Linked DNA regions of Homo sapiens. The protein of the gene in region 2 binds, or shares a complex with, the protein of the main gene of each other region. Each region holds a gene or a part of one and is shown on either strand. Other genes may lie near its edges.

Region 1 (12,092 bases), on a different chromosome or scaffold from region 2:
AACTCCAAATAGTAACAATTTTACTTGTATTAATACTTACTTCTTTTACATGAAACTAGTTTATCCCTTTTTGGGGGTGGAAGGGAACACAGAAATGACACTCCTGACCTAATTGTGATCAAAATTATTCAGCATTAGAAAAGTGGGTCAGCATTTATCATTCAGAAAATCTAGGTCAGGTCAGCATTTTCCAACTAGTCTCTTAAAATGCAAAACATGAAAATGCAAGAATGTTAGCCTGCATATGAATGCACAAACACACATATATATAATTTGCCCAAAAAAAGTGACCAGAATTGGTTGAAAAGATTTCCACTAATACATAAAAATTATCAACATTTTCTTTTGGCATTATTAGCGTATAAATTTAAACTTTGTTGCTTATCACGTGGTAGGGTGATGATATTGCACCAAATAGGCAAGTAACCTCAGTTTAATTTGAGAGCAAGAAATCAGGCTTGATTAATATTTAGATATGAACCCATCACCCATCTCTTCTCAGCAACAGTGGCCACAAAATATTTGGGTTAATGAAGTAATCCAAGTATAAAAATTTGACCTTAGGTGAATCAACATCTCACATCTCCACTTGTCAGTTTCATTTCATTTGTAAAATGTGGGGGCTGGATTAAACAACCATTTGTTCTCACCAGTCATATTTTAAAAATGTACAGAGACATTTTCTACTTAATACTTTCCATTTAACAACTTTCATGGATATGATGAGTAAAACTACAGTACAGAGTAGAAGCGCTTGAACTCTGTTTTCCACTGGCAACACTGATTTTGTAGTTATTTTCATCTCATTATCATGGTACCTACAATTAATTTGCTGTTTGTGCTGCTTTGTTTTGGAGCTATTTTATATAAACCTCAGATCTAAAGATAAGGCAAAAGGGTGTCAAGAGTTAGAGAAGGCATACGCAAAACAATGATAAATGGTAGAGTGAAAAAAAATTAGAATAAATGCTCCATATATGTCTTTGATAAAAAGGTTGGACAAGAGACAGTATTCTGAAGGAAAAGAGCAAAGCCTGCTGTAAAGTCCTCTGACCTTGCAATCAAGAAAAAAACAAAAACTGATAAAATGTCCTATCATATGGTATGAAATCTAACTGCTTATTAGAACCACTTGGAGCTTAAAAAGCCATCATTGCCCAGAAATTTGGATTTAACTGGTCTGGGCACCTACAGTTTCTTAAAATTCCCTGAAAGCTTTTTTTTGAGATGGAGTCTCACTCTGTTGCCCAGACTGGAGTGCAGTGGCATGATCTCGGCTCATTGCAACCTCCACCCCTTGGGTTCAAGCAATTATCCTGCCTCAGCCTCCCGAGCAGCTGGGACTACAGGTGCACGCCACCAAGCCCGGCTAGTTTTTTTTGTATTTTTAGTAGAAATGGGGTTTCACCATGTTGGTCAGGCTAGTCTCGAATGCCTGCCTCAGCCTCCTGGAAGTTTTTCTTTGCAATCAGTATTCAAAAGCTTTGCTAGAGAAGATCAGCACCCACATCAGATTCCTATTAGCCTAATGAAGTGGTTATCAAAGGTGTGGTTCATGGAACCCTTTCATGGGTTCATAAGATCAGAACTATTTTTATAATACTAAGATACTTGCCTTTTAACTGTGATGCCATTTTCATGGATGATGCAAAAGCAATATTAGCAACAGAATTATCTGAACTGCTACCTCCTCACCCACTCCTGACATAAAAAATTTGCTTTTCTTAATATTTTTGTGCAATTAATGGTATTGTTGCATAGTTGAAAGGGCACAGCATTTCGTGACAAATTGGTTCCGTTTAAATCTTAGCTCTGCTATTTATAAGCAGTGTGATGTTGGGCAAGACACTTGGCTCTCCGCATCTGTTTCTTCATATGAAAAATGTGGCCAATAATACGACTTTAATAAAACCTTGTATGTAAAATAAAACACCTGTCAGAGTAGGTGCTTAACGAAAACAGTAAGCCCTCACTTAACGTCATCCACAGGTCCTTGGAAAATGCAACTTTAAGCCAAAAGATATATAACAAAAAAAATTTACCATAGGCGAATTGATATAAACAAGAGTTAAGTTCCGATGGCATATTTCTAGTCACAAAAGCATCACCAAACTTCCAAATCAATATCAAAACCCTTCTAATATTCAACACTGAAGTAAATGTGAGTTATACATCCACTTAAGAAAGATTAATAAAAACAAGTAAGATAGCTGGCTATTTGCTATTTCAGTTCAGTGTTGACGGTGCCGGGAGCCATCCCAGTAGCCTGGAGTATAGGACATCATTCCAGTGCAGAGCACTCAAACTGGGAGAGTGTAGACACCTCAACAAACCCATTGTATATATCTCTGGGATGTAGAAGGGAACTGGAGTACCAAGAGAAAATCCATGCAGACATGGGAAGAACAGACATGAAGACAACGTGCAATTGGGAATGGAGTTTCTTCCTCATACACGTTATTGAGGATCTGCTGTATTTCTTTCCCATCCAATAAATCATCCAAGCTGGAGCTGTGCTTCATCACCCTTCATTAAGTATCTTCAAAACGATTTTCCTAGTTTTCCTTTCCTTTCAACCCAACTGCTCATCAGAGTTGAGACATTCAATCATTGTATACCTGAACTACAGCACTTGTTTTCAAGCTGGTCTCCCAGATTCTAATCTTCCTCCATTTAAATATACTCTATGTTGTTACCAGTTGGTTTTCTAAAATGCACACCTTTTATTTCCCTGCTCCAAAGCCTTTATCAAGTAAGCAATTAAACATCATCAAAATATAAAGTCTTTGGCATGGCACAAAGCTCTTCAAAATCTGGCCCCAATCTTTCTAGCCTCATCTATCACCAGTCCACTATACTTGACTTCTTTTTATTCCTGCCACATTAAGGCTCCATGCAACTATTGAACTTCATGCCTTTTGTTCCCATAACTGCCATTTCCTTTATCTACGGGATAGAGATTGCTGTCCCACCTCTAGCTAATGACTCCTTCCCTAATACTCTTTAAAGTACAGGTGAGAGAGAATTACTTCTTTCTTGGGGACATCTCTCAAGCAGTTCCCAGCCAGTACTACTCCTTCCACTGTGTTTAATGATTTTCTACATATCTTCTGCTATAAGAGGAGAGAAAATACTTCACATCTATTCTCTGGAGACTCAGTTTAATTATGAAATGTGGGCAATCATTCCTGCTTTGCAGAGTTTGTGAAAATCATTTAGTGCACCAAGAAAAAGACATGAAAATAAACTCCCTTAGAGTTAACCAAGTAAAGGTTCGGAACTGGAAATGATTCTAACTCTGTTTGGCTCAGTCTAAACCCATGCTCTCTCTACTACATGTGTTGTCTTGCTACAACATAGCAGACAACAGATGGAATTTACTTATTTAATAATTTCCCCCACTGGACTGTGAAATCCTTGAAGACACTGAGCATGTTTGTATCCCCAGACTCTTTTTTTTTTTTTGAGATGGAGTTTCGCTCTTGTTGTCCAGGCTGGAGTGCAATGGCACAATCTCGACACACCGCAACCTCCACCTCCTGGGTTCAAGTGATTCTCCTGCCTCAGCCTCCCAAGTAGCTGGGATTACAGGCATGTGCCACCACGCCCGGCTAATTTTTTATTTTTAGTAGAGATGGGGTTTCTCCACACTGGTCAGGCTGGTCTCCAACTCCCGACCTCAGTTGATCTACCCACCTTGGCCTCCCAAAGTGCTGAGATTACAGGCCCAGACTCTTAATGGAGTAATAACTCCAGCTGGCACTGTGACTGTAGAGATTAAAATACCTAGTCTTTAAGAATTCTGCCTAGAGAGGGAGAAATGCAGGCAACACCTTATTGCTGTTTTCTGTGAAAAGGGTTATGCTAGAGGGATACTGGAAGTATACATATGAACTAGGAATATCCCTATAGATACCTAAAGAGAGTAGAAGAAAATAGAAGGGGTTAAGGGAGGCTTTTTGGAAAGAGATGAGACATGAGAGAAATGTTGAAGGATGTTAGGTGTTGGGGGGAACAAGGCATTCTGAAATTCTTTAAAAGTATTAATTCACAAGTGCTACAATTACTGTTCATGCTGACAGTTGTAAATTATTACTGCTGATAAACATTTTATCCTTGAAATGCTTTTTAAAAAGATTCTTGGCTGGGGACGGTGGCTCACGCCTGTAATCCCAGCACTTTGGGAGGCTGAGGTGGGAGGATCACGAGGTCAAGAGATCGAGACCATCTTGGCCAACATGGTGAAACCTCGTCTCTACTAAAAATACAAAAATTAGCCAGGCGTGGTTGTGCACGCCTGTAGTCCCAGCTACTCGGGAGGCTGAGGCAGGAGAATTGCTTGAACCCAGGAAGCAGAGGTTGCAGTGAGCTGAGATTATGCCACTGCACTCCAGCCTGGGCAACAGAGGGAGACTCCATCTCAAAAAAAAAAAAAATCATTAAAATACAGTAATTCAGGTTTATTAAGTCATTACCATTGGGTTACCTCACAAATAAACTAAGTTTAGATGCGAACTCAAAGATACTGAGACACTAATCCATTTCTTAAGCTGCTAAGTTAGCCTTCTTGAAACCTCACTTCGTAGCTCTGCAAACAATGTACTTTTGACATCCCAAGCTCACAGGAATAAAAAACCACCTGCCAGTTGTTTCCGTTTTCCACCTATGTCTAATTTATGTACTTATATTTATAAGAAACAAATCACTAAGTCTTATTTCATCCTTAGTTATGTTGTGTTTCTATCGATAACAGCATGAAGATTTCGGGGACCTGGACATTAAAATAAGTTTGAGTACTGGCTTTACAATCTACTAGGTGTGATCCGAGGCAAGTCAGTCTCTTCATGTTTCACTTCTTTCACTTGTAAACATCTATTCAGAAGTTGCTGTGAACTTGATATTTCCATGCTTATAAACTGATTTTTTGAAAAGAGCCTGGTACATAGGACGTGATAATAAATGAAAGCATTTGCTACTTTTGGAAAAACAAGCATGACAAGATAGTTTATATACTGTTGATCTTAAGCACAGTATATGCATCTTATTTTTAGCTAGTCTGACAGTGAGATAATAAAAAGAGTTATCTTTGACTTGCACTACGAGTAGAAGAATTCAACTTCAGTTTCTAGAAAGATGTATAAGAATTAAGAGTGGCAGTCTTCCTAGTCTCAACTGCCATCTTCCCACCAGGTGGTAAATTCGTCCAGAGAAGAAAATGAATTATTGCTATATGGGATTCTGCAGCAACTTCTGTGAACATAGGCTCATAATTTTTCACCATGGAGACTCAAGCTTTTTGGAGTCATAGTTGTTTTTGGGTCTATTTGCAGGCATGCATCCTTTGTCCAGAAATATACATAACATTTGGCACATGGACCTGGAGGTAAAAGAGGAGGAAGGCCTGAGGCTAGACACCACTCCAATAAGTACATTAAGCTCCTAGAAGGGCAATCCACCTTTGCAGAGAACTCTTAACTATTAAAACCTATAGCTTGTAAAGCAGCATTTTCAAAGTTAAGAGAAGAAGGTGGAAGGGTCTTGAGAGGCTACTGACTAAACAGATGAAAATGAAGGTATGGAGTTTGGTGCCAAAAGAAACTCCCCCCAAAAATCAAACAATAACACCAGAGTAAAGCCCCTAGGGCGAGATAAGGAGTTGCAACAAAACAAGCGGAAACTCGAGAAGCGCTAATGCTTCAAAGGGTCAATGACCACACATAATCTACGTAGCCAACGTGTTAAAACACACCAACGCATTTTTTTTTCCTAAACAAAGTAGGAAAGCGGACTTTGCATGAGGGGCGGGCTGCCGACCCAGCAGTCTTCCTCGGACAGTCCGTCCTGATTCTCTCTGGTTGGCCGTGGAGGGACCACATGGCTCCAAGGCCTCTCAGCTCCGGGCCCACACACCCCGGGCTGCCGCACAAACTCCAGCCCTAGTCTAGATCCACAACCCCTTCTCGAAGATCAACCGCGACCTGGGAGCCCCACTTCTTACCATAGCGAGGCCGGCGATGCCGCAGCCACATCACCCTTCCGGGGCTCAGGCGGAAGAGGCTGCATGTCCCGTCTGCCCTTCTCGCCCTCTCCAGCCGTCCGGTTGGGCTTGTCACGGCACCGCCTACCAAGACGGGCGGTTAAGACACTAGGATAGGCTCCTCTCCACCGGAAAAGGCGGGATTTAGATCACGTCCCGCAGGCCGGCGGAAGTAGCTGATACTCTCATTGGTTGCAAAACCTTGATCTGTGAAAGCGGGCGTTTTGGAAGATACCGGAAGTAGAGTCACGGAGAGGTAGGATCCGGAAGTGGGGCTGCCTCTTTAAATAACAAAAATCTGAGGTTCTGTTCTTTTTATCTTTTTGCTTTCTTTTTAAAAAAGTTCCCTGCTACTTACCCCTAGAACTCCACAATGCGAGAATCCCCCTCAATTTGTGAGCTCCCGCGACTTCCTCTTGTGGGCTTTTGGGGATGCTAGGGTTCTCGGCATTATCCTCAGGGTGCGACCTGTTCACCCCCTTTTCAGTTTCTCCGTTTGCATCTGAGGGATTCTTGGGAATGCGAAGCACTTTTGAAATGCTCTGTGTTGGTTGTGGGATTGGGAGGACGGTTGAATCCAGAGGGTAGTGTTGAGTAGGCTGTTTGAGCATTTCCCCAGCACTGGCCTGTCCTTTCAATCCCCAGATATTGGTAAACTGTGGGTTCCAACCAGGCATCGAGGCTGAAACGTACTAGGCAATTTGAGGTCAGGAAAGAACTTTCTGTGGTAACCAATGGGAAGGAACTGCCGTTTGCGGACTGCAGCGATTGATTAGGTACTTTAAAGAGATCAACTGGCAAGACAAATGACAAGGCAACTTTTAATCAGTAGTAGTATTTAGCTTTTTCTGATTTTAATTATCCCATTAGGTGAGGTTCTACTACACACACACGTTTTTCTTTCTGCATTTTATCGATGGAGAAACAGGCGCTTTGACATGTTTGAATTTGCGTAGTTCTTGGAATTCTAATAAAGTATTAGAAATGAGAGTTTTTCACTCTTTGCCCCCTTATGGCAAGCTTTTGGTTCTAAATGTGTGGTGTATTTTTTCTCAGGCAGGAGAGAGTTCTTTTCAGAATGTTTTCAATTTTTTATGGACTTAGAAGGTGGATAGAGAGAAAGAGAGAAGGTAACTCACGTGAGATTTTGGTTTATGAACTGTATTCGGCCTATGAGACCCTTTTGTATTTAGGGCAACACAATGATTAGAAGATTTGGGATTCTGCTATTTGTGTTTACATTGTTCACTAGGGCACACAAAGGTTTTGTTTTAAACTATAACTAACTTGATATTTGAGTCTGTTATATTGAATTGTCAAGAGTTGGTCAAATACACAAATTAGCAAGTATTTACTGGGTGCCTGCTTTATTCATGGATCTTCAGATTGCAGCATAGGAACAAAGATGGTCTGTTCCTTTAAGGAATTTAATAAGGTTGGGGGAGAGGGGAATAAGAAAGGTATTTAAAAGATACAGTACTCTCCACCTAAGGATAAAAAAAGTCTTTTAATGTTCTGTCTTGTAATTCCTTTATATTATACCTTTTAGGTCTTGCCATTCAAATTAAACAAACCTGGTTTAGTTATGGAAATTATGTTGTGCAATTTATCGAGCTTGGCTTTTAGGGCAGTAAATGTGTCTGTAGACATAACTGCCCTTGGTTTCATGTGAAGATTGTCTTGATCTTTGTTACATATAAAGGTAATACTTCTGTATGAAGCTCTGCTTCAGGCTACCTGTGAAAAGCATCAGAAAGCTTAACTTGTTAGAGATCACAATTGATTTGCTATATCTATATATTTTAATTAATTTTAGGCTATGACTTCTTATGTACCTGAGCTTCAAAACAGTAAAGAACGGCATTGCCAGTTTTTAAGTTATCTATAGAGAAACACATATGCCAATAAATGAGGCTGAACAAATATGTATAATGTTTATTGCATTTATGTAAAACATCAAAGTTAATCTGACGTGGTGAGTTTTTTTTGGGAGGTGGTAGTTTAGCTCCATTGTCTTACATAAACCCCCTACTTTTTGGTTTTCAGATTATATCACAATTTCTAAAATCTTTCTGGCAGCTTTGCAGTGAATCCTCATTTAAAACCATCTTGGATCCTTTCCTTACTAGAAATAAAATCTGTCTGTGTTATTCCTTTGTTCAAAAATTATTATTTATTTTTATTTTTGAGACAGGATCTTGCTCTGTTGCCCAGGGTGGAGTGCAGTGGCACAATCATGACTCACTGCAGCCTCAACCTCCAGGGCAGAAGCGATCTATCCTCCTCCCTCAGTATCCCCAGTAACCGGGACCATGGTTGCATGCCACCATACTTGGCTAATTTTATTTTATTTTTTGTAGAGACAGGGCTCACTATGTTGCCTAGGCTGGTCTCAAACTCCTGGGCTCAAGTGATCCTCCCGCCTCGGCCTCCCAAAGTGCTGGGATTACAGGTGTAGGCCACCGCACCACGTCTGGCCTGTTCAAAAAGTATTATCTCACCTGCATCTGGAAGAATATTTCCAACTTTGGTTTCATGGGTATATTAAAATCGTATGTAAAAATAGTGGATATTTGTAGTTTTCTGTGGCGCCAGTGCACAGGTGTCCTCAGTGTTATGAGGATTACATGAGTTATTACAAGTAAATCATCTAGGCAAATGTTTGGCATACAGTAAGCACTCAGAAAGTGTTGGCTATTACTGTGCATGGCTTTGTCTTTGCTAAATTAAAAGTCCCTGGAGAGGAGGAATTATAATGGAGGAATGGTTGAATTGCATATATTAGGCACTAAATACAGTAGTCCCTCCTTATCTGAGGTTTTGATTTCTGCAGTTTCAGTTACCCATGATCAACCACAGTCTGAAAATATTAAGTAGAAAATTCCAGCCGGGTGCGGTGGCTCATGCCTGTAATTCCAGCACTTTGGGAGACCAAGGCGGGCAGATCACTTGAGGTCAGGAGTTTGAGACCAGCCTGGCCAACATGGTGAAACCCCATCTCTACTAATATACAAAAATTAGCCAGGCGTGGTGGCATGTGCCTGTAGTCCCAGCTAGTCAGGAGGCTGAGGCAGGAGAATCAATTGAACCCGGGAGGTGGAGGCTGCAGTGAGCCGAGATTGTGCCACTGTACTCCTGCGTGGGCAACAGAGCGAGACTCCATCTCAAAAAAAAAAAAAAAAATTCCAGAAATAATGCATACATTTTAAATAGCATGCCTTTCTGAGTTGTGATGAAATCTTATTCCATCCTATCCCATTCAGCCCGGGGCCATGAATCATCTCCTTGTTTAGCGTATCCCTGCTGTATAAGCTTCCTGCCTTTTAGTTGCTTGGTTATCAGATTGATGGAGGTGGTATCACAGTGCGTGTGTTCTAGGAATACTTATTTTACTTAATTATTGCTTCAAAGCACAAGAGTAACGACGCTGGCAATTTGGTTATGCCAAAGAGTAGCTGTAAAGTGCCTCTTTTAAGCAAAAAAAGGAAAGTTCTCCACTTAATAAGGAAGAAAAGAAATCCTATGTTGATGTTGTTAAGAACTATGGTAAGAACAAATCTATCTGTAAAATTGTGAATAAGCAAAAAGAAATTTATGCTAGTTTTACTGTCACACCTCAAACTGCCAAACTTATAGCCATAGTGCATTATAAAAGCTTAGTTAAGATAAAAAAGGAATTAAATTTGTGGTTAGAAAATGTGAACAGAAGCATGCTCAGATTGAAGGCAGTTGGATTCAGCCTCCTCACGGGGCCTTGGGATATACACCCTTGGATAAGGAGAGGACTGCTATAAAAGGTTTTAGTATTAAGTTGGTATTGCATTTGTATCACCAGACCACTTTCTCCCCATTTTCTCTTTTTACTTTGTTGCTAGTGTTAATGATAGGGTTGATTTACATTACCTTTTACATTACCTACCTTTTTTCATTCACTGTTATTCACATATATTGAAAGACAATTGTTCTGCTTTTTTCCTCTTATCCTCAGCTAGCCTCCCTAACCTCAGGTAGAGGTTTTTCATGTTCCAGTGTTTGTCCTTTTTTTCTCCCCCCTTGTTTTTATTCCCTTCCCACATGGCTTTTCAATTCAGACTGAAATGTACTTGAGGACCAAAGTTAATACAGTTTTATTCTGTTAGGGATTTTTGTTAAATAAGTAGAGTTTCAGCTGCCCTTGTCACACACAAAAAATAAGATAGATGATAGGTGTTAATCTCCTTGACTAAAATAACCATTTTACTATCTGTGTGTATCCTATAATGTCAACTTGTAAACCTCAAATATACACATTAACATTTTTTAAAAAAAGAAGTTTCACCAAAAAAGACACTTCTATTTAATGTATGTCTTATTTCTTTTACCTTAAGAAATGTTTCTCTTAACCTTTCTCCATTTTCAACCCCATTTGTTTGCTCTTCTCTGCAACAAAAATCCTCTAAAGAGTTTTCTATGCTCCATGTTCCAATTCCTCTTTTTCTACCTCTGCATCTTCATTGGTATATTTAAAAGATATCTTGAACTCAGATGTCCCAGACCGAACTCCTTTCCTCCCAAACCTTTCCCATTCTTTCTCATCTGAATTGATGGCAACTTTATACAGCCAGTTGCTCAGTTAAATCTTTGGAGTCATCCTTGACTCCTTCCTTTCTCTTGTATTCCAACAAATCTGTTGGCTTTTTCTATGAAATATATCTAGAATTCAACAGTTTTCTACTATTTCTGCTATTAGTATACTGATCATCTCTTGCTCAGATTTTTGTTATTACCCACTATCATTTCTTGCCTGGATTATAGTAATTGTGTTCTGTTCTCTCTGCTTTTTTCAGTCCTTGCCTCCCTACAGTCTATTCTCATATGTCAGCCAGAGTGATACTTTTAAAATATAAATAAAAAATTGTGTATTTACATGTAAGATTCTAAATGCAATATGTTATGCTAGATTGGATCCTGAAACAGAAAGAGGTTATTAATGGAAAAACTGGTGAAATCCAAATAAAGTCTATGGTTTAGTTGATAGAAATGTATCAGTGTTGGTTTCCTGGTTTTGATAAATGCACCGTGGTAGTATAAGATGTTAATATTAGAAGAAATTGGGTGAGGGGTATATGAGAACTTTCTATTATCTTTGTAACCCTTCTGTAAATTCAGAATTATTTCAAAATAATATACAGAAGAATAAAACATTACTTTTTTGCTTAAAAACCTTTCGTGAATCATTTGATTCATAGTAGAAGCTAACAGCCTTACGTTGGCCTACAATAGTCTACATCAGTCTTGTCCAACTTACAGCTCACAGGCTGCCTGTGGCCTATGATGGCTTTGAATGCGGCCCACCACAAATTTGTAAACTTTCTTAAAACATTATGAGATTTTTTTTTTTTTGAGCCCTTTAGGTATCATTAGTGTTAGTGTATTTTATGTGTGGCCCAAGACAATTCTTCCTCCAGTGTGGCCTAAGGAAGTCAAAAGATTGGACACCTCTGCTCTACATGATCTGGTCTCCCATTACCTCTCTGACTACATGTCTTTGTATTCTCTCTCCCTTTGTTCCAGCCATACTTACCACCCTGTTTCTTAAGTACACTAGGCCTACTTCTACCACAGGGCCTTTGCACTGACTGCTGCTTCTTTCTAGAATGCTTTTGGATCCATACAGCTATTCCTTCATAGCTTTTACATGTTGTTCAAATGTCACCTTTGCAGTAAAGCATATCCCAACCTCCCTATTTAAATTGAAGCTTTGCAACTTCCATAGCCCCTACCCCTATCTCCTCCACCCTGTTTTATCTCCTCTTTTTACTTCAGCGCTTATCATTATTCTATATATGTATTACATATTTGTTACATGTATTTTTAATTGTGTTCCCCTATTAAAATGTAAAATCCATGAAGGCAGGCATTTTTATCTGTTTTGTTGTCTTATGCCACATTCTAAAGCATTTGTCTGAGGCATAGAAGTACTCAGTAGGTTTTGTTTGAATGAATGACTGACTTGATTGGGTGTTTGAATCTGTAATTTTTTTTTTTTTTTTTTTGAGATGGAGTCTTGCTCCGT
Region 2 (12,904 bases):
GATAGAACTGCTACAAGGGCTGATGGAAGGGCAGGCCTGTATTAATAGCCCTTGTCTCTCTTCAGTTGCTGCCCATTGAAAGAGCTGCTCGGAAGCAGAAGGCCCGGGAAGCTGCTGCTGGGTGAGTTTTGGAAGCTATTGGGATGGAGCATAGGAAGCCACTGGGGTGGGGAAGCTGTGAGGAAGGAGGAGGTATCTGTTTTGGTCTGTGAATCACTCTGTTCCTGGACCTGTTTCTAGGATCCAGTGGAGTGAAGAGGAGACCGAGGACGAGGAGGAAGAGAAAGAAGTGACCCCTGAGTCAGGCCCCCCAAAGGTGGAAGAGGCAGATGGGGGCCTGCAGATCAATGTGGATGAGGAACCATTTGTGCTGCCCCCTGCTGGGGAGATGGAGCAGGATATCCTTGCAGGGCAGAGTGAAGAGTTAGGAGGAAGGTGGTTGGGAGAGGGATTTCCAGGCCTTAGGACATCATGACACAGTTCCTTAACAGGCCCACATGCCCAGGCTCCAGACCTGCAACGAGTTCACAAGCGGATCCAGGATATTGTGGGAATTCTGCGTGATTTTGGGGCTCAGCGGGAGGAAGGGCGGTCTCGTTCTGAATACCTGAACCGGCTCAAGAAGGATCTGGCCATTTACTACTCCTATGGAGACTTCCTGCTTGGCAAGCTCATGGACCTCTTCCCTCTGTCTGAGGTACTGGATTGCCAGAATGCCTCTTTTGCTTTTCTTTTCTCGCCTCCTTACGCTGTGTAAGGAAGATGTTCGGCCCCCTTGCTCCCCTCTTCTGACTGAGCTCCTTAGCCAGCCTCACTTATTCCCTGCTGTCTTGCCCCGCAGCTGGTGGAGTTCTTAGAAGCTAATGAGGTGCCTCGGCCCGTCACCCTCCGGACCAATACCTTGAAAACCCGACGCCGAGACCTTGCACAGGTGAGGGGTGGCCTTTGAGGCTCACTCATCTCAGAAGGGAAGTGACTTCTGCCAACTCCAGAGATTCCTCTGTGCTACCCTGACTGGGTGGGGCCTTAGGACCTAAGCATGATCCTGGGGGGGCAAACCCAGAGGCCTGATGTCTCTGGCAGGATAGGATCTGGGGGCCTAGGACCTCTGTGGAATGGGAAGTTCATACTCTGCTCCCTGTGACTAGGATGATGAGACTTCAGGATGAGCGTGCTGCCCCCAAGGAAATTGGAGGGAGATCATTGAGGAGCTGGGGAAATATGATTCCTGACTGCACAAAAAAGACACATATGCACAGTCAATATTTTAAACTCATTTCCAAGGGTTCAGGGGCCCCAGGTTAAAGACCCCTGTTGTAAAGTCAGTTGTTGGGTTATATGTGTTGTATATTTCCTGGTGTGAAGAAAACCTAATAATGTAATGTGGTATAACCAATGTCATTAAATTTTTAGTATAGTGGAGGGGCTCAGCCTCTTAGAAAATCAGATGCCACTTCTAGGAAATAAAGTAACAGGAGGTGGCATCCTGCTCCATTGGGATGAAGTTCAGATCTTGAGTTAGGAGCCTGAGGTTAAGAAAAAAGGGCACCATAGGATGGAGTGGGAGAGAGAAACTGCTCAATGACTCCATGATGACTGTGTTTGGAGTAAGCACTATAGGAGTTGTGGGGTATGGGCCATGTTTTTATGAAGCATGTGTTTAATGTCTTCATCTGTCTTCTGGGTAGAGTAGCCTATGAGGTTATTAAAATCTTCATCCCTACCGGGCGCGGTGACTCAACGCCTGTAATCCCAGCACTTTGGGAGGCCGAGGCGGGCAGATCACCTGAGGTCAGGAGTTAGAGACCAGCCTGGCCAACATGGTGAAACCCCATCCTATGAAAAATACAAAAATTAGCCAGGCATGGTGGTACATGCCCGTTGTCCCAGCTACTCAGGAGGCTGAGGCACGAGAGAATCGCTTGAATCTGGGAGGTGGAGGTTGCTGTGAGCCGAGATTGCGCCACCTCACTCTAGCCTGGGCAACAGAGTGAGACTCCATCTCAAAAAAAAAAAAAAAAAATCTTCATCCCTTTTCAGGCTCTAATCAATCGTGGGGTTAACCTGGATCCCCTGGGCAAGTGGTCAAAGACTGGACTAGTGGTGTATGATTCTTCTGTGCCCATTGGTAAGTCTCCCCCACCCAAGAGCCCTTCTACCTCTGTCCCTGTCCCTACCGCATGTCACAGGGTGGTCCTTCTCCACAGGTGCTACCCCCGAGTACCTGGCTGGGCACTACATGCTGCAGGGAGCCTCCAGCATGTTGCCCGTCATGGCCTTGGCACCCCAGGAACATGAGCGGATCCTGGACATGTGTTGTGCCCCTGGAGGAAAGACCAGCTACATGGGTATGAGAGGGGCAGGCAGGTGGGATTCATCGGGCTGTCTTGCTTTTGAAAGTAGATGGGGTTGCTGGGGTTGCTGACTCACTAGTGCTCATGGAACACAATGTGCAGGTAGCTAGCAGGGTGGTGAGGACCAGTTTCTGGAGTCGGCCTGGGTTCCAGTGTGCCACTTACTACCCATCTGACTATGGATTCTCTTTTGTCATCCATAAAATGGGATGGTAATTGTGCTTGGGTTGGCCCTTGTATTACGCTTGGATTGTGAGGGTTAAAATGATGCGTTTAGAAGTCCTTGGCAGTGTTCAGCACATAGTCAGCAGCCATAACTTTTATTAAGCTGCTGTCACTTAAAAGAAGTAATTTAGTATGTAGGACCACATAGGTGTTTGGTAAAAATGGGAAAACCACATCGGTAGACTTGCCGATCACCAGGGGCTAGTGCAGAGTGGATCAGCCTATACAGTAGGCAGGCTTGTTGGGAGCGAAGTTGCCTTGAGGTGATGACACTTCTCATGTGGATTCCTGGACAGGAGGGTGGGAGCAAGTGTGGAGACAGTGGAACTGGCTGATCAGCACTGTTACTGCCCTCTCTTTAGCCCAGCTGATGAAGAACACGGGTGTGATCCTTGCCAATGACGCCAATGCTGAGCGGCTCAAGAGTGTTGTGGGCAACTTGCATCGGCTGGGAGTCACCAACACCATTATCAGCCACTATGATGGGCGCCAGTTCCCCAAGGTGAGACTCGAGCTGTGTGTCTTCTGAGGCTTCTTCCGGTTGACCTTCTCCCTTCCTGACCTCAATGTTTAGACTCGACCCTAGTAAATATTGCCCTGCTGGTTGCAGAAGAGACATATGATTCATCTGTATCTTTTCTCCAGGTGGTGGGGGGCTTTGACCGAGTACTGCTGGATGCTCCCTGCAGTGGCACTGGGGTCATCTCCAAGGATCCAGCCGTGAAGACTAACAAGGTGAGGAGTCAGGTGGTGGGCCCCTGAGAGGCCTTGGCTGGGTCTCGTAGAGCTGGAAACTGAGATGGGGACACCCTCTGGGCTCCCCTCTCCTCCTGAGGCTGCCTTTGGGTCTCTTTTTGGGACAGGATGAGAAGGACATCCTGCGCTGTGCTCACCTCCAGAAGGAGTTGCTCCTGAGTGCTATTGACTCTGTCAATGCGACCTCCAAGACAGGAGGCTACCTGGTTTACTGCACCTGTTCTATCACAGTGAGACCTCTGCCATGGCAGAGCAGGGGAGGCTGGGCTGGGGGGCTCTTTGCCCCTTAGAGCTCCCTTCAGCTCCAGCTCTGCTTTTTCCTCCGTTCTTTGTCTTCCCCCCACATCCAGGTAGAAGAGAATGAGTGGGTGGTAGACTATGCTCTGAAAAAGAGGAATGTGCGACTGGTGCCCACGGGCCTAGACTTTGGCCAGGAAGGTTTTACCCGCTTTCGAGAAAGGCGCTTCCACCCCAGTCTGCGTTCTACCCGACGCTTCTACCCTCATACCCACAATATGGATGGGTTCTTCATTGCCAAGTTCAAGAAATTTTCCAATTCTATCCCTCAGTCCCAGACAGGTAAGTAATCTTTTTCTTCCCTTCGTCACCACCTTTGCTCTTTCCACCTTTCAGGAGGCTTTATGGTGTGACAAGAGGAAGGGAAAGGAAAGATTCATGCATCCCTTACTCCAGCCTTTGCATGCTTGGCTGAGAGAACCCTCTCATTCCAGCTAGAATTGCTTTTGAGTGCTGGACCCCATGTGAACAGGCTAAAGTGTTCATATGGATGGAGGCCTGTTCCTTTATTCTGCCAAGTGGCTGCAGTTGTTCAGCACTAAATGCATTCCAAATGCAGGTTGTGGTTTCTTTTCCTTCTTGGCACAGGGTGGACTTACTGGTACTGGACCTCTGCTGGTCCAGCAATCTCAGCACTGGGTTGGAACAGAGCTCCACAGAGCTTTGTCAGCAGTTCTCTGAGCCCTTCACACTCATTGCAGATTGTTTTCTCAGCCATCTTGAGGAGTCTGGCCTGGATCTCAAGGGAAGGGTGGGGTTTTCTGAAACAGCCTTGAGAGCACTGCTTACTGGGATATAACCCTGGGTTTAGTTGGAAGAGGGAGAGAAGTGCTACTTTAGAAATAGTAGAATTTGTCTGGGCGTGGTGGCTCATGCCTGTAATCCCAGCACTCACCTGAGGTCAGGAATTCGACACGGTGAAACCCTGTCTCTACTAAAAATATAAGAATTAGCTGGGTGTGGCCAGGCACGGTGGCTCACGCCTGTAATCCCAGCACTTTGGGAGGCCAAGACGGGTGGATCACGAGGTCAGGAGATCGAGACCATCCTGGCTAACACAGTGAAACCCCCATCTCTACTAAAAATATAAAAAATTAGCTGAGCTTGGTGGTGGGCGCCTGTAGTCCCAGCTACTCGGGAGGCTGAGGCAGGAGAATGGCATGAACCCGGGAGGCGGAGCTTGCAGTGAGCTGAGATTGTGCCACTGCACTCCAGCCTGGGCGACAGAGTGAGACTCCGTCTCCAAAAAAAAAAATTAGCTAGGTGTGGTGGTACGTGCCTGTAGTCCCAACTACTCAGGAGGCTGAGGCAGGAGAATCACTTGAACCTGGGAGGTGGAGGTTGCAGTAAGCCGAGATCACGCTATTGCATTTCAGCCTGGGCAACGAGCAAAACTCCATCTCAAAAAAAAGGAATAGTAAAATTTGCTATAACTTAAAAAGTACATATTTTAATTATCCCGCACTTCATCACAATTCACATGGAAAGAAACTTCTCTGATTTAAAAAATAAATAGGCCAGGTGTGGTGATGGCTCATGCCTATAAATCCCAGTACTTTGGGAGGCTGAGGTGGGAAGATTGCTTAAGACCACGAGTTTGAGACCTGTCTGGGCAACAAAGGGAGACAGTAGTTCCAGCTACTCTGGAGGCTGAGGTAGGAGGATCCCTTGAGCCCCAGGAGTTTGAGGTTGCAGTGAGCTATGATGGCACCACTGTACTCCAGCCTGGGCAACACAGTGAGACTCTACCTCAAAAAAAAAAAAAAAAAGATAAATAAAGCCTAGTGCTTCAAATTCATTTAGAAGACCCTGCGAGGCCGGGCGTGGTGGCTCGCGCCTGTAACCCCAGCACTTTGGGTGGCTGAGGCAGGTGGATCACCTGAGGTCAGGAGTTCAAGACCAGCTGGTCAACATGGTGAAACCTCATCTCTACTAAAAATACAAAAATTAGCCGGACATGGTGGCGCACGGTTGTGATTGTCCGGAGGCTGAGGCAGGAGAATTGCTTGAACCCAGGAGGCAGAGGTTGCAGTGAGCCGAGATCACACCACTGCACTCCAGCCTGGGTGACAGAGTGAGATTCCATCTCAAAAAAAGAAAAAAAAAACCCCAAAACCCTGAGAATCACCTCTTCCTTACAGCATCTTGTTACTTCCTGTCCTCAAGAGGGCGCAGCTTCCTGTAGAAACCTTTTGGCCCAAGGATAGGCAGTGATTTTTTTTTTTTTTTTTTTTTTTTTGAGACGGTGTCTTGCTTTGTCGCTCAGGCTGGACTGCAGTGGTGCAATCTCAGCTCATTGCAACCTCCACCTTCCAGGTTCAAGCGATTCTTGTGCCTCAGACTCCCAAGTAGCTAGGATTACAGGTGTGTACCACCATCCCTGGCTAATTTTTGTATTTTTAGTAGAGATGGTTTCACCATGTGGGCTAGGCTGGTCTTGAACTCCTGGCCTCAAGCAATCCACTTGCCTTGGCCTCCCAAAGTGCTGGAATTACAGGTGTGAGCCACCACGCCTGGCCTATAGGCAGTGATCTTTTAATACAAGGTTCAACTAGGACTTGAGTAAAGGCCAAGTTATATTAAGTAATGGGAATTTAGGTAATCTGCTCTTAGGCACTGACCTAATTGTGTGGAGCTCCTGCCCAGGAAATGGCAATTCTCATATTTTAATATGAGAATATTAAAATATGGTGATAAGGCCCATTTTCTGACACCATCTGTTTAATTTTAACCCCAGGAAATTCTGAAACAGCCACACCTACAAATGTAGACTTGCCTCAGGTCATCCCCAAGTCTGAGAACAGCAGCCAGCCAGCCAAGAAAGCCAAGGGGGCTGCAAAGACAAAGCAGCAGCTGCAGAAACAGCAACATCCCAAGAAGGCCTCCTTCCAGAAGCTGAATGGCATCTCCAAAGGGGCAGACTCAGAATTGTCCACTGTACCTTCTGTCACAAAGACCCAAGCTTCCTCCAGCTTCCAGGATAGCAGTCAGCCAGCTGGAAAAGCCGAAGGGATCAGGGAGCCAAAGGTGACTGGGAAGCTAAAGCAACGATCACCTAAATTACAGTCCTCCAAGAAAGTTGCTTTCCTCAGGCAGAATGCCCCTCCCAAGGGCACAGACACACAAACACCGGCTGTGTTATCCCCATCCAAGACTCAGGCCACCCTGAAACCTAAGGACCATCATCAGCCCCTTGGAAGGGCCAAGGGGGTTGAGAAGCAGCAGTTGCCAGAGCAGCCTTTTGAGAAAGCTGCCTTCCAGAAACAGAATGATACCCCCAAGGGGCCTCAGCCTCCCACTGTGTCTCCCATCCGTTCCAGCCGCCCCCCACCAGCAAAGAGGAAGAAATCTCAGTCCAGGGGCAACAGCCAGCTGCTGCTATCTTAGATGGTTGAAAACTAGACGGGTGGCTCACTGCCATTGTCACCAGGTTGGAACTCTTGCCTCTGTGAGGATGCCTTCTCTACTGTGCATACCCATGAAATTTAATACACATTTTAAAACCTCTGGCCACTGAGTATTTTTGAGGGAACTGGGTGCTGCCTTTGCCGCTTTAAGGGTAAAGATGGGAGGTGGGACTGGGATCTTCTGAGGAGAGGGAATGGTTGGGTGCTACTGAGAAATAAGGTCAGTTTTAGGCTCCTGCATCCTTGGGTTTTCCCAGGAAGGGAAAGCCCTGGAGTCAGAGCTAGGGGTGATTGAACTCCGGGGAGAGGAGGGCAATAGAAGTGTAGGGGAAGGCGGGGCACACTAGCTCATGCCTGTAATCCCAGCACTTTCTGGGAGGCCAAGGCGGGTGGATCACCTGAGGTCAGGTGTTCGAGACCAGCCTGGCTAACATGGCGAAACCTCGTCTCTACTAAAAATACAAAAAATCAGCCGGGTGTGGTGGCGGGTGCCTGTAATCCCAGCTACTCGGGAGACTGAAGCAGGAGAATCGCTTGAACCTGGGAGGCTGAGGTTGCAGTGAGCCAAGATCGCGCCACTGCACTCCAGCCCGGGCGACAGTGAGACTCGGTCTCAAAAAAAAAAAAAGTCGTGTAGGGGAGATGGGCTTGCCACCAGAACCCATGGGGTACTGGAGGTCCTGGGCTTTACGCCACCCCGGCTGGAGTCCAGGCGGTGGCTCCCCTCATCACAGGGCTCGGCCTCAGACCCGGAAAGGTCCAGGGTCCGGCCTCCAATTGGAGCCTGTCATTGGCTTCCCCTCGGCCCGCCCCCTGACCTCTGCCCCGCTGCCGAGCCGCCTGATTGGTCGGCTCTGTCCCGCCGGCGCCGCATTGGCTCTTCTGGCTCGCCTTCCATCCCTGCTCCTGCACCGGTCTGCATCTCCCAGCAGAAGGCGCAGCCATGAATCCGTTATTCGGCCCCAACCTCTTCCTCCTGCAGCAGGAGCAGCAGGGCCTGGCCGGGCCACTGGGGGACTCACTGGGAGGCGACCACTTCGCCGGGGGAGGAGACTTGCCCCCGGCGCCTCTCTCGCCGGCCGGCCCTGCTGCCTACTCGCCGCCCGGGCCGGGCCCGGCCCCGCCTGCCGCCATGGCCCTCCGCAATGACCTGGGCTCCAACATCAACGTGCTCAAGACCCTGAACCTCCGGTTCCGCTGCTTCCTGGCCAAGGTGCATGAGCTGGAGCGCCGGAACCGGCTGTTGGAGAAGCAACTGCAGCAAGCGCTGGAGGAGGGTAAGCAGGGCCGGCGGGGCCTGGGTCGTCGCGACCAGGCAGTGCAGACCGGCTTCGTCAGCCCCATCCGGCCCCTGGGGCTGCAGCTGGGCGCCCGGCCGGCCGCTGTCTGCAGCCCTTCGGCGCGCGTGCTGGGCTCGCCCGCGCGCTCCCCGGCCGGCCCCCTCGCGCCCTCCGCGGCCAGCCTCTCGTCGTCCTCCACCTCCACCTCCACCACCTATTCCTCGTCGGCCCGCTTCATGCCCGGCACCATCTGGTCGTTCTCGCACGCCCGCCGGCTCGGGCCGGGACTGGAGCCCACTCTGGTGCAAGGGCCTGGCTTGTCGTGGGTGCACCCGGATGGGGTGGGCGTCCAGATCGACACCATCACGCCCGAGATCCGCGCTCTCTACAACGTGCTGGCCAAAGTGAAGCGGGAGCGGGACGAGTACAAGCGGAGGTAGGGATTGGGAAAGGGGGACAGGTCTCTCTGTGTCATACCACTCACAACGGGCCGCGAGTTGGTGTGGGTTCCGAAGAATCAGGGGTGAAAAGAATGAGAGTAAAGTTTGTGCTGTGTAATGAGGAGCTTGGAAGCAATTGGATGCAGGGAGACTAGAATCCGCAGAGAATGCAGAAGCCCTGCTCGTGACAGGAAGAAGGACGCTGGGAGCGGAACACGGGGGGATTCCTACTTTTCCGGCTTGTCTCTGCCATCCAGGCTTAACTGCGGGTTTTGTGCGGTGTGAAAGGGACTGGGGCTCTGCCCTACCGGTCTCAGCCCTGGGGCAGGTTAGGGATATAAACTTCAAAAGTAGGAGGCAAGGATATAGCGTAAATTTGGGAGACTAAATTGAGTGAAACTGGAAGGGGCTGGTGAGGGAGGGGCTGTACCTTGCAACGAGTGATTCTTTCACACCCCAAGGTTTCCCAAAGAATATTGATGGAAACCAGGTACCTGCTGTGGTTTCATAGGAAAAGCTCCGGGACCTCAAGCCATTGCTTGAGTAGGTCAACAAACTGGGAAAAGAAAGAGTGAAGGGAATTCACTAGGGTGAGGGTGGAGAGCAGGGCTGACAGGGGAATCTTGGCAGTATAAAGCGCCAGTGGGGAGGGAGAGTGGAGAGCCAGCAGGGGACTGAGCAGGGAGAAGCTGGGATATGGGCCCTCCCTAGGACCGCGAGGCCGCGGGGCGGGCCCGGTGCATTCTGTGGATGAAGATTTGGCTGTCTGAGAGGAGCCCGGCCCCAAGGGGCAAGGGAAAGGGATGTGATGCCAGGAGTGCTGGCTGTATACCAAGTGGATTCCTTAGATGGCTGATAACCAAGCCGATAGGACAGGAGTGAGAGCAGAGGTAGTGTCTTGCAGACTCCAACCCAAGCCTTGAGGAGGGAGCGGGTGACTGACAGGCTTTGGTTTGGCGGCCTCCCCTCTCATCTCAGCTATTATGACCCCTTGTGGGCGGGCCTGGGAACTACCTATGCAGCCCAGTGTGGCGGAGATTCAGCACTGGGTGAGGATTGGCCGAATGTTCTAGGAAATGACCGCTGGGTCTAGGGGCGACCTTCAGGGATCTCCACCCTGCTGGAGTTTACCAGATCACAGATCAGCAGGCTTTCTTTTTTTTTTTTTCCCATAAATGATAATATTTTATTATAGAAAAAGCATCCCAAATACAGGATTTCGTAAACACTGGTAGGTGAACAAGTGCAATTTTAGAAGTAAATGCAAAGTAAAGAGGCAAAACCTACAAGCATTTTGCCTTCAGAAGAAGATGTAGTGTTCTCCTGCACTAGTGATCCCACCCAGAACACAAATGTGGCTCTGTCTCCCGTGAAAGCATCAGATTTGCTTTCTGAGCTCAGTATGCCCATTTCAATAATTGCAAAGTGATGGCAAGAAGTGGCGTTGAACACATGACTACAGACCCTTGACTTAAAATATTGAGACAGGGACTTGCTCTGTCATCCGGGCTGGAGTGCAGTAGCGTCATCACAGCTCACTGCAGCCTCATCCTCCTGGGCTCAAGCAATCATCCTGCCTCAGCCTCTTGAGTAGCTGGGACTACAGGTGTGCACTACCATGTCCATGCCTGGCTATTTTTTTTTTTTCTTTTTGCGTTGTCCAGGCCAGTCTCAAACTCCTGACCTGATCAGCAGGCTTTCTGAGCTTGAGTCCTGTCCTCGTGCTGGCTTCCTTAGTTGTGGTCCATGTTATGTGTCCTTGGGAGTTTCAGTTGTCCTGAAATCATCGTTCTGCCACCCAGAACCAGCCTGCTCTGCCCCTGCAGGAGTTAACTACGCGCTCAGCAGTGGCACAGGCACAGTTCTGGAATACATCCATAACCACAGGAACAACTGCTGTTCTCAGGAGCATTTTTTTTTTAAACTGAAGGAGCGTTTGTCCTTGGTCCAGCTGTCCAGGACAGGAAGGAGTTATTCCTTGGGGACTGATTAGCTCATCGCTCTGCAGCACGCTGCTGTGTAGAGAGCCTTAGCTGGATTCGGATGGTGCGTGATACTGGCAGTGACTCTTCTTCCTCCCTAGATTCCCTGCCCTCATTCTGGTCTCTTTATAGCAACACTGTAACTCCTGTCTTCTGCCTGGAAGGCCTGGGATGGCTTGAGCGCTACACTGGGAGGTAGCTAAAGGCCTCCTGCGTTCTATTTTCAGCTCCCCTGCCTTGTGCGTGACCTTTTTTTGAGCCCCCATTTTCCCAACATAGGAATGGTCCCTGCTTTCTCTCTTCAACCCAGGGATACAGTTTTTTGGAAGAGAGATATTTGGTCCATGCAGAACACATGGATATCGCTCTCAAATTCTGCCCATGTTAAGGGAACCTTATAAGTGAGACCAGATGGAAATGGAGGTGAAAATGAACCTGTCTGTGTGAAGTCTGGCCAAAGAACAAATAGAACTGTAGTGGGCTTCCAGATGATTCATTTGTAGATTTTTTTTACCCTGTAAGATTTCCTTAGGCTTAACCTTTAGCTATAACTGCCTTACTTAAGTTTCTTCCAGGCTCTGTTGAGCTCACTGTCAGATAGCCCCTCCTGCCCTCTTTCACACATCTTGTCCAGGGTTAGCGTGCCCTTGACAGGCTTACTGTCTCCCTCCAGGGACTCGTGGGCTCCCGGCGCATGAGGGCACCACAGTTCATGCCTTCACATCATAGATGAAGAAACCAAGACCCAGAAAAGATAAGGGTCTTAGCTAAGAAAACATAATCTGATGCGACTGGTTCCCTTAGTGGCCTGACTGTATGCATGAGAATGCCAGGGAGGAGGGGAGAAGCACCTACGGGACACACAGGGAAGGGGGCTGGGAGCCAGGAAGGCTGGGAGCTGGGCTGTGTGGGGAGCCAGCAGGGTGGTGGCTGGGCTGGCTGCCTCCTCCTGCTCTGCCCAGCAGGGAGGGGCAGTCGAGGTGATGTGGAGGAGTTATTATTAGGAATACTGCAGTGCGGCTGTGAATGAGGAGATGGGACCCAGAGGCTGACACAGGAAGGAAGATGGAGGGAAGGGGAAGAAAGGGCTTCACCCAAGGCTTCAGAAGCTGCCCACTCAGATTTTAATTTTCTTGCTGTCTTCTTGGCCCCTTCCTAACCACCTTTCTTGTGTTGAAGTTTCTCTCTTGGTGCAGTTCCCCTCCCTTCTCGGGTTGACAGAAGTGATGAGCTCACAGGAACAGGATTTGAGATGTGCTGCTACGCCAGCTAGACTGCAGGGCCCTGGAATGCCGGGCGGGTCCTAAGCAGCACGTTGCCCTGGCTTCCATCTCTGTGATGGAATAGAATATGCACTGCCTGCCATGGCTGATGAGACATGACAAAGCTGGCTCTGGGAAGCATGCCCTACCTAGGACCCTGCCCTGTGGCCCAGGGTGTCGTCCGGCCCACTTGCAGTCTTAATCTCTGAATTCTGGGCCCTGGAACAGGCTGTGTCTAGTTCTCATTTGCCGTACTCACCGGGCCCCTTTACATACTCTACTTTCTCTTTCCCTCTGGGTTTGAGTGCTAGTAACCCCAGGCTCGTGTGTCCACTGCTGTCATGCTGCTGTGGGACTTCCGGCCTCTGAGCCAGTCTGGTCACCTCTCTGTGACTCCCTTAGAGGAGGCTCTGGGTGGGTAGTTTCTGGAGCTAGTGGGGAAGGACTTTGAGTGTCTCCTACCAGGCTCTTGACCCACTCTGTTGATACACTATGTGTCCTGCAGATGCTTTTACAGGGTTAAATGATACCACAAGAGGCAGGGCAGCGGGCTCGACGAGCTCTGTTCTGGTGCGGGCAGGAGGCGGGAGCCCGGATCTGTGCGACTGAAGGTGGGAGACTGGGCCGGGTGGACCTGGTGGTCTGGTGTGGGCAGGAGGTGGGCAATGAGGCCAGCCGGACAGCTGGCTGAGCTGGGGCCTGAGCAGGGATGGGCATCACGGAGGACCGGAGCCTCAGCACTTGCCCAAACAGAGCTCCTGGTGCACAGCCCGGAGGTTCCGGGAAGGCAGCTGGCGAGCTCGACGCCCATCAGGAAGCACAGAGCCGCGTGACAGCTGCAGTTGGTCACCAGCTGGCTGGCCAGGCATTCCTGTGCCCTGCTCCTCCCCATCCAGGGAAC

What was found.
Region 1: the proteins of IFFO1 (region 2) and XRCC4 are in contact, whole or in part, in a crystal structure (PDB 6ABO), measured with the Homo sapiens proteins. Residues at the interface, in NP_001317253.1 of Homo sapiens: Arg469, Glu470, Tyr473, Ile477, Gln479, Ile480, Glu481, Glu483, Leu484, Ala487, Lys488, Asp490, Met491, Arg493, His494, Leu495, Tyr498, Met501, Lys505, Leu508, Asp509, Met512, Cys515, Arg516, Leu518, Ile519, Thr520, Gln521; in NP_001304941.1 of Homo sapiens: Trp155, Val158, Gln159, Phe162, Glu163, Cys165, Val166, Lys169, Glu170, Glu173, Leu176, Tyr177, Phe180, Val183, Leu184, Lys187, Lys188, Lys190, Ile191, Leu194, His195, Lys197, Leu198, Ala201, Ala202, Arg205, Glu212.

Annotation. Positions count from the first base shown.
Region 1 is NC_000005.10:83,071,323-83,083,414, forward strand, and holds the start of XRCC4 (DNA repair protein XRCC4), read left to right. Parts: upstream 1-6,224; 5' UTR 6,225-6,293; exon of another isoform or gene 6,294-6,340; intron 6,341-12,092. Other genes in the region: TMEM167A (protein kish-A precursor), read right to left, coding at 5,999-6,001.
Region 2 is NC_000012.12:6,551,108-6,564,011, reverse strand, and holds the start of IFFO1 (non-homologous end joining factor IFFO1), read left to right. Parts: upstream 1-7,969; 5' UTR 7,970-7,982; coding exon 7,983-8,755; intron 8,756-12,508; exon of another isoform or gene 12,509-12,614; intron 12,615-12,904. Other genes in the region: NOP2 (28S rRNA (cytosine(4447)-C(5))-methyltransferase), read left to right, coding at 66-121, 241-398, 498-697, 842-931, 2,041-2,128, 2,208-2,348, 2,942-3,081, 3,225-3,314 and 3 more. UniProt on the Homo sapiens protein: Nuclear matrix protein involved in the immobilization of broken DNA ends and the suppression of chromosome translocation during DNA double-strand breaks (DSBs).